2 separate regions of the Homo sapiens genome follow, and region 1 is linked to region 2. Evidence: fine-mapped expression QTL. A gene starts in region 2. The other region holds a variant in brackets. All regions are shown on one strand. Distances are from middle to middle.

What was found. PIP is the estimated chance that this variant, and not a neighbour inherited with it, causes the effect.
Region 1: its variant is the best candidate, but not a certain one, in a credible set for the expression of ZBTB40 in lymphoblastoid cells (GTEx, PIP 0.54).

Annotation. Positions count from the first base shown.
Region 1 is chr1:22,481,673-22,486,199 of GRCh38, reverse strand. All of the region lies in intron 1 of ZBTB40 (zinc finger and BTB domain containing 40), which reads right to left. Among named protein-coding and RNA genes, the nearest start is that of ZBTB40, 32 kb to the right of the region's middle. The variant A/G (reference allele first, on the strand shown) is at 2,872.
Region 2 is chr1:22,450,019-22,454,018 of GRCh38, reverse strand. ZBTB40 (zinc finger and BTB domain containing 40) reads right to left here and starts at 2,168. Exons shown (of 18, transcript NM_014870.4): 1 at 2,015-2,168. RefSeq lists silencers at 1,685-1,774, 2,115-2,314, 2,629-2,923 and enhancers at 1,885-1,964, 1,678-2,239.

The DNA of each region.
Region 1 (4,527 bases), 32 kb before region 2:
CTACCACATCACTAAAGGCCTAGCTATAGCAGTTCCTTTTATGCAGTACATCATGTCCACCTTTCAACAAAAAATTACAAGGCATACTAAAAGACAAACAAACAGACAAAACCCAAAAACAGTTTGGAGAGACAGAGCAAACTTCAAAACCAGACTCAGATATAGCAAGAATGTCCGAATTAGCACACCAGGATTTTTTTTTTTTAAGACTATGATTAAATAGCCAGGGGCTTTAATGGAAAAAGTACAAAACATGTAAGAATAGATGGATAATGTAAGCAGAGAAATGGAAATTCTAAGAAAGAATCAAAAAGAAATGCTAGAGATAAAAAACACCATAACAGAAATGAAGACTGCCTTTGATGAGCTCATTAGTAGACTGGACACGACTGAGGAAAGAATCTCCTAGCTTGAAGACGTAACAATCCAAAACGAAAAAGCAAAGTAAAAAAAGAAGAAGAAAACAGAACAGAATATCTAACAGTGGGAAGACTAGAAAAGAAATAACTAATGCAAAATGGGGACACCAGAAGGGGAAGAGAGAAAAGCAGCAATATTTGATGCAATAATGACTGAGAATTTCCCCAAATTAATGACAGACACCACATCACAGATCCAGGAAACTCAAGACATTGAGCCTAGGCATATAGTTTTCAAATGTCAGAAAATCAAAGATGGCCATGGTAACAAAGAAAAAAAAATAGACAATACAATTTATTAATATCAGTATCACTGTATACCCCATATACATTAAAAATATAAGGTAATTTATGAATGTCCACAAATATAACCTAAATAAAATGATCCAATTCCTTGAACGATGCAATCTGTCAAAACTCACACACGCAGCAATAGACTATCTGAATAGGCCTATATCTATTAAAGTAGGTGAATCAACAATAACCTCCCCAAAGTGGAAGCAACAGCCCCAGATGTGTTCACTAATGAGTTCCACCCAATATTTAAGAAAGAAATTATACCAATTCTCTACAAACTCTTCCAGAAGATAGAAGCAGAGGGAATATTTCCCAACTCATTCTTTGAGGCCAACATTAACCCTCTACCAAAACCACACAGAGACATTACAAGAAAAGAAAACCACAGACCAGTATCTCTCGTTAAGATAGATGCAAAAATCCTCAACAAAATATTAGCAACTTGACTCTAACAATGCCTAAAGAGAATTATACATCATAGCCAAATGGGACTTCTCACAGGTATGCAAGGCTGGTTCAACATTCAAAATCAATTAATGTGATCCATCGCATCAACAGGCTAAAGAAGAAAAATCATGTGAACATGTCAACAGAAAGCTGCAGAAAAAGCATCTGGCAGAAATCCAATGCCCATTCATGATAAAAACTCCAACAAACTAGAAATAGAGGGGAACTGCCTCAACTTCATAAAGAACATCTACAAAAAACCTACAGCTGGCATCACTCATAATGGTGAGAAACTCAAAGTCTTCCTGCTGGGATTATAAACAAGGCTGGGATATCCCAGTTCACCACTGATCTTAAACACTGTACTGGAAGTCCTAGCTAATGCAACAAGACAAGAAAAGGAAATAGAAGGTATACTGATTGGGAAGGAAGTTAAAACTGTCTTTGTTTGCAGACTACATGATTGTCTTTACAGAAAATTAAAGAGAAATGACAAAAAACCTCCTGGAACTAATAAGAGATTATAACAAAGTTGTAAGACATAAGGTTAATATACAAAAGCCAATTGTTTTCCTATATACCAGCAATAAGGTAGAATTTGAAATTAAAAACTTTACCATTTACACTAGCACCCCAAAAAGAGAAATACTTAGGTATAAATCTAACAAAATATGTACAAGATCTATATGAAGAAAACAACAAAACTCTGATGAAAGATATCAAAGAACTTTAAAAATGGAGAGATATCCCATGTTGTTAGATAGAAATATTCAATATTTTCAGAGACTCAGATCTTCCCCATGACCAAAATAGCTAACTCAATATTGAAGGAGAAGACTGAAGTTGGAGGACTGATAATGACTTCAACATTTACTATTTTAAAGCTACAATAATGAAGACAATGTGGTATTGGTGAAAGAATAGACAAGTAGACCAGTGGAACAGAACAGAAAGCCCAGAAACAGACCCACACAAATATAGTCAATTCATCTTTGACAAAGGAGCAAAGGCACTAAAATGAAGCAAAGAGTATCTTTTCAACAAGTGATGCTGGAACCAACTGGACATTCACATACGAAAAAATGAATCTAGACATAGACCTTACACCCTTCACAAAAATTAACTTAAAATACATCAGAGACCTATATGTAAAATACAAAATTATAATTCCTAGAAGTTAACATAGGAGAAAACTTAGTTGACTTTGGCTATGGCAGTCTTTTTAGGTACAACACCAAAGGCACAATCCATGACAGAAATAAATTTTGCTCCATGAAAGACAATGTCAAAAGAATGAAAAGACAAGCCACAGACTGGGAGAAAATATTTGCAAAAAACACACCTGATAAAAGACTATTATCCAAAATACACAAAGAACTCTCAAAACTCAACAATAAGAAAACAACCCAATTAAAAAATAGCAGAAGACCTGAACAGACACCTCATCAAAGAAGATATGCAGATGACAAATAAGCAAATGAAAAGATGTTGTACATGGTATGTCTTTAGAGAATTGCAAATTAAAACAAGATACCATCACACACCTATCAGAATGACCAAAATCCAAAACACAGGGAATACTAAATGCTGACGAGGATGTAGAGAAACAGGAACTTTCATTCAATGCCGGTGGGAATGCAAAATAGTACAGACATTCTACAGATTAACAGTTTCTTACAAAACCAAACATACTCTTGCCACATGATCT[A/G]GTAATCACATTCCTTGGTAATTAACCAAAGGGGTTGAAGACTTATGGCCACACAAAAGCCTACACATGATACTTATAAAGCAGCTTTATTCATAATTGCCAAAATTTGGAAGCAACCAAGAAGTAGATATAATGAATAAACTGTGGTACATCCAGACAATGGACTAAAAAGTGCTAAAAAGATATGAGACATAAAGCCATGAAAAGACAGGGAGGAAACTTAAATGCATATTTCTTTTTTTTTTTTTTTGAGACGGAGTCCTGCTCTGTCGCCCGGGCTGGAGTGCAGTGGCGTGATCTCGGCTCACTGCAAGCTCTGCCTCCCGGGTTCACACCATTCTCCTGCCTCAGCCTCCCGAGTAGCTAGGACTACAGGCGCCCGCCACCACGCCTGGCTAATTTTTTTGTATTTTTAGTAGAGACCGGGTTTCACTGTGTTAGCCAGGATGGTCTCGATCTCCTGACCTCGTGATCCACCTGCCTCGGCCTCCCAAAGTGCTGGGATTACAGATTACAGGCGTGAGCCACCGCACCCGGCCTTAAATGCATATTTCTAAGTGAAAGAAGTCAATCTGAAAATGCTACATACTTTATAATTCCAAATATATGACGTTCTGGAAAAGGTAAATATATAGATAGTAAAAAAGACCAGTGATCGCCAGGGGTTAGAGGAGAGGGAGGGATGAATAAGCAAAGCACAGAGGATTTTTAGGGCAGTGAAATTATTCTTCATGAATCTACAATGGCAAATATAAGTCATTATACATTTGTCAAAACCCACAGAATGCACAACACCAACAGTGAACCCTGATGTAAACTATGGACTCCGGGTAAGAATTATGTGTCAATGTAGGTTCATCAATTATAAGAAATGTACCAATATGGTGTGAGACATGGATGGTGGGACAGGTTGTGCATGTGTGGAGAATGGGAGTGGGGAGGGATCTGCAAACCCTCTGTAATTTCCGCTTAATTTTGCATGTACCTCAAACTGCTCTAAAAAAATAGTTTATTAATTAAAATAAAGATTTGCTGAAATAAATATAAATGTTTCAGTTCTAACTACCCCAAGCCCCTTCTATACCATGTACCTAATATTGTTGGGCATTCATGAATTCATATGATTGTTTTCAGCTTGCTCAAAGAAAATCTTTAAGAATGTCTACCCCTACTTTTTGAATACAGTCTGTTTTAATCTATATTATAAAAATGCACATATATTTTTAAACAAATGAAGAACAGTCCTAGGAGGTAAGTGGCTTTTATCTAATAGAAGTAGCTCTAGTAGGCGACTGGAATTTTTATCTCTTGGTGTTTTATGGAAAGAGGAGGGGAAAATTCCATAAGATTTAAAACTAGAAAAACATTTTTTTCTAGTTTTAATATTTAAATAAATATTTAAATTAATATTTGAGAAAAATCTGAACAAGAATTCAATTTGCAAATAACAAAAGACCATAAACAGGCACTGATGAGGTTTTTCTAAGAAACAAATTACACCAATGTAATGTGATTTTTTTTTTTTTTTTTTTTTTTTTTTTGGTAAAACAAGACATAAGTCTTACGGATTACAGTAAACCAAAAGACTTACCTGGACATACATTAGATCTTTTTAAACATTCTTATTAGTAAGAAACAAGTGACTGGAATTATATT
Region 2 (4,000 bases):
GAGATTGTGCCACTGCACTCCAGCCTGGGCAACACAGCGAGACTCTGTCTCAAAAAAATAAATAAAATAAAATAAAATAAAAATTTGTTCAATGAATGACCTAGATTTGTTTACTTGGTATTTACCTGCAAACACCAGGTTGTGGGTACTGGCTAGCAGCTGAGGATAACAACAGTAAGGTGTGGTCCCTGCCCTTAAGGACCTCCTAAGCTAGTAGGAAAGACAATAAACAGATGGAACAATACAGGGTGTTCAGTGTGATCAGATTAGCTTCAGCTCTCAGCTGAATGCCTTAGCTATGTAACCTCGAACATCTCTCCGACGTGAGTTTGTTTCCTCTATGCGTAAAATGGTAATATTAATACTACTTATGTCATAGTATTGGTGTGAGGATTAAGTGATAGTCCATATAAATAAAGCACTTAGCACAGTACCTGGCACAAAATAATCACTCAGTAAATAGCAACTAATAATTTTATTATGATGATGCTATTACAGCTGTATTTGAAATTATCTTTGTCTACCTGTATACCACTTGTCCAAGCCCCACATAGAATTTAAATTCCATGGAAGGGCAGAAATCATATTTGTCTTGTTCACCACTGTATTTCCAGGAATTTGAAACGTCTCTGGTACACAGTAAGTGCTCAACAAACACTAAATGATTAATGAATGCATGCGTACATGCATGGGGTGTTCTGAAACCATTTGTTAAACCACTAATGAATAGCTAAGTTTGGGGACTACTGACATAGAAGAAAAGTGTTTATATTAGAAAGGAGGGGCAGAAGTTTGATGATTTAGCTAAGTAGAAAAAAATTTCACTGAGATTGTAATTAAATCTCCATTAACCATACAAAGATCTGGGTACAATTCCAGGGAAGAACAAACAATTCCAGGTAGAAAAGACTTGAAAGAATAAAATCCAAAGCAGTTTGACCGGTGCCATCAGGCAGGGGGCTCCCAGGGACAGGCTCAATTTGGCAGCCCTATAACCTAGTACACCTATACATATATTAACCACTCAGAACAAATTTCTTCCTCGTTTGTAAAATGGAAATACCATACTTACTTATAAAGCGTCGTCATAAAGTAGAACAACACTTGTATGAATATAAATAAAGCACCTGGTTCATTGCAGCACTGGCTGCATGGTACCAACGCTATTCAAAGCAGGAGAAACTCTGAATAGTCAGTAAGACCAGAAGGGAAGCCAGAGTGTTCTGTCAACTAAAGTGCTCTCGGTGCATCGCGCAGTTTTAACTCTTTTCCCACTCCAGAAGAACCGACGAGAGGAATAGCTGAATGACAACACTGATCCAATCTCCTTGTGTTTAGGGCAGGGGTCAGTAAACTTTTGCTGTAAGGGACCAGACAGAAATATTTCTGGCTTTGTGAGCCAGCCGATCAAAGCCAAGCAACGGCTGCGCAACTACTCAGCTCTGCCCTCTTGGCAGGAAAGCAGCCATAGACAATACATCAACAATGAACAGGGCCGTGTTCCAATAAAACTTCATTTATGGACTTGATTTCATAGAACTTTCGCAAATTACATGAAATATTCTTCCCCCTAACCATTTGCAACTGTAAACAAAGACCGAGAGGGGAAGAGAGAAGGGGGGCATGGATTAGGCCCAAGGCCATAGTCCGCTGACGCCCGGCGAAGGGACCTGAAGGGAGGGGGAGTGAGACAGCGACAAGAGGCCTCCGGACGGGCCGAGAGGGAGGTGCGGGGCGACAGCGAGCCCCAGGCGGTGTCAGGTCGGGCCTGGCGCCCTGAGTGGGTCCCCGCGGTCTCTCCCCTCCGCAGTCTACAGCAGAGCCGGCGCCAGGGGTGCGGACCGCCCCTGGAGGGGGCACGTCCGGGGTGTAGGTGAGGCGGCCGTGATTCGGCCGAGTCCCGCGGAGTTCGCCACGCGGAAGGGTCTGTATACACCCCTCATTTAGGGCGCACCCGGGCCCCCGCTGCAGGAAGGGTCTCCACGCGGAGTCCCAGCCCCGTTTCTATGGTTACCTGTTCAGCACCGATTCAAACTGCCGTTCTTTATTGACAGCGCCATAGAGGACACGAACACTCCTGCCCGAAGGGAACAATAAAGCTTTCGCCATTCAACAGCGCCGGAGACGCCAGAAGGCGGCCATCTTGAGGCCGGCGCGCAATGGGTATCAGAGGGGAGGGGGCGGCCCGACCTGCCCCACGCGCCGCGGTCACGTGCTGGGGGCGGGGCCTGCGTCACGCGCTCGCTCTCCACCTATGCTAGGACGGCGGGGGCCGGCTGGTTGCTAGGCTCTTCTCTGACCTCTGACCTTGGCCACTCCCTCCTTCCCTCCCCACACTTCCTAAGTAAAGTTTTTTTCTTTTTTTTTTTTTTGAGATGGGAGATTCGCTCTTGTTTCCCAGGCTGGAGTGTAGCGGCGCGATCTCGCCCCACTGCAGCCTCCGCCTTCCAGGTTCAAGCGATTCTCCTGCCTCAGCCTCCCGAGTAGCTGGGATTACAGGCGCGCGCCACCACGCCCTGCTAATTTTTTTTTTCTCTTCTATTTTTAGTAGAGACAGGATGTCACCATGTTGGCCAGGCTGGTCCCGAACTCCTGAGCCCAGATGATCCACCTGCCTCGGCCTCCCACCATGCCCGGCCCTAAGGAAAGTTCTAATGGAGCTCCGCAGTCTCGCTCCGGCAGCTCTAGGATTAGGATTTTGTTTCAAAGGAGGGCAAGGAAGTGAACACAAAAGGCTTCGTTTTTCCAAAACAACACATTCACGTGCGAGGCGGAGAGGCGACCTGAGCCGCGTCCCCAGCCCGCACTCTTTGTGGGACAGGCTTGGCGCTGGTGGGGCGCAGTGGGCTGAAGGCATCCTGGAGGCATCCTGATCCTGCCTCTCGCACCTCCCAATTTTGGGATTTAGGGGCTTTGGGATTTAGTCCTAGCTTTTCTTTTGCTCATTTTCCTTCTCACACACTATGCGTTCCCTGTTGAAGCGTCCCCTTGCCACCCTTCCTTACACAAACATTTAAATCAGATCCAGCAGTAACAAACTGAGTCACCTCCGCGCTGGCCCACTGAACACAGTCACCCTGTCACTGACATGCAGCCACTTTTTCTGTCCCTGACAGTTACGTGCCCAAATCCAGCCATCTTAGTGCAATGTCCAGCTTCCTCTGTGGTTATACCTTTTCCATCTGCAATGTCAATATTCAGTCGTTCTGAGAGCTGTCTCTGGCTGACTGACTCACCCCATCACCGTTTTACATCACAAATTCAATCTACTGGGCAGAACTGTCACTTGCATTGTTGCTGTCTCCCGGTCGATCATATTTACTGTCACTGTCTGACATGCAGCTACCGTCATTGACCATAAACTTCAAACGGTTCTGTTCAAAATAGCACTTTGTTTGCCCAGCTGTTGCCCTTTCTGTTGTTTTCACTGTCATTGTCATGCAGCCACTTTTGCTGCCACACAGTCAAGCCAGTATTTAACAGGCCCCTTCAGGGTACACTGTTGTCCTCATACCCTTGTGCCCAGTTAGTCACTTTCACTATTATACTCATGTCACCGTTACATTCAGGGTCGGATTTACTGTAGCTGTTATTTAGTCACTTTTGTAGTAACTGGAACCACGCCTACAGCTGTTGTGTCTCCTAAGCCCTCATTTCCACCAGCCTCACATTCTCTTTTAGTGGGAACATAGGGTTGCTAGATTTAGCAAACAAACACCTAGAAGGGTGCTTGGCACATAGTAGGTGCTCTAGAAATATTTATCGAGTTAATGGGATTACAGGTGTGAGCCACTGGGCATTTTGGGAGCATTTTGGGAGGCCGAGGCAGGCGGATCACCTGAGGTCAGGAGTTCGAGACCAGCCTGGCCAACATGGTGAAACCCCCGTCTCTACTAAAAATAGAAAAATTACCTGGGCATGGTGGCAGGTGCCTGTAATCCCAGTTACTCAGGATGCTGAGGCAGGAGAATCGCTTGAACCTGGGAGGCGGAGGTTGGAG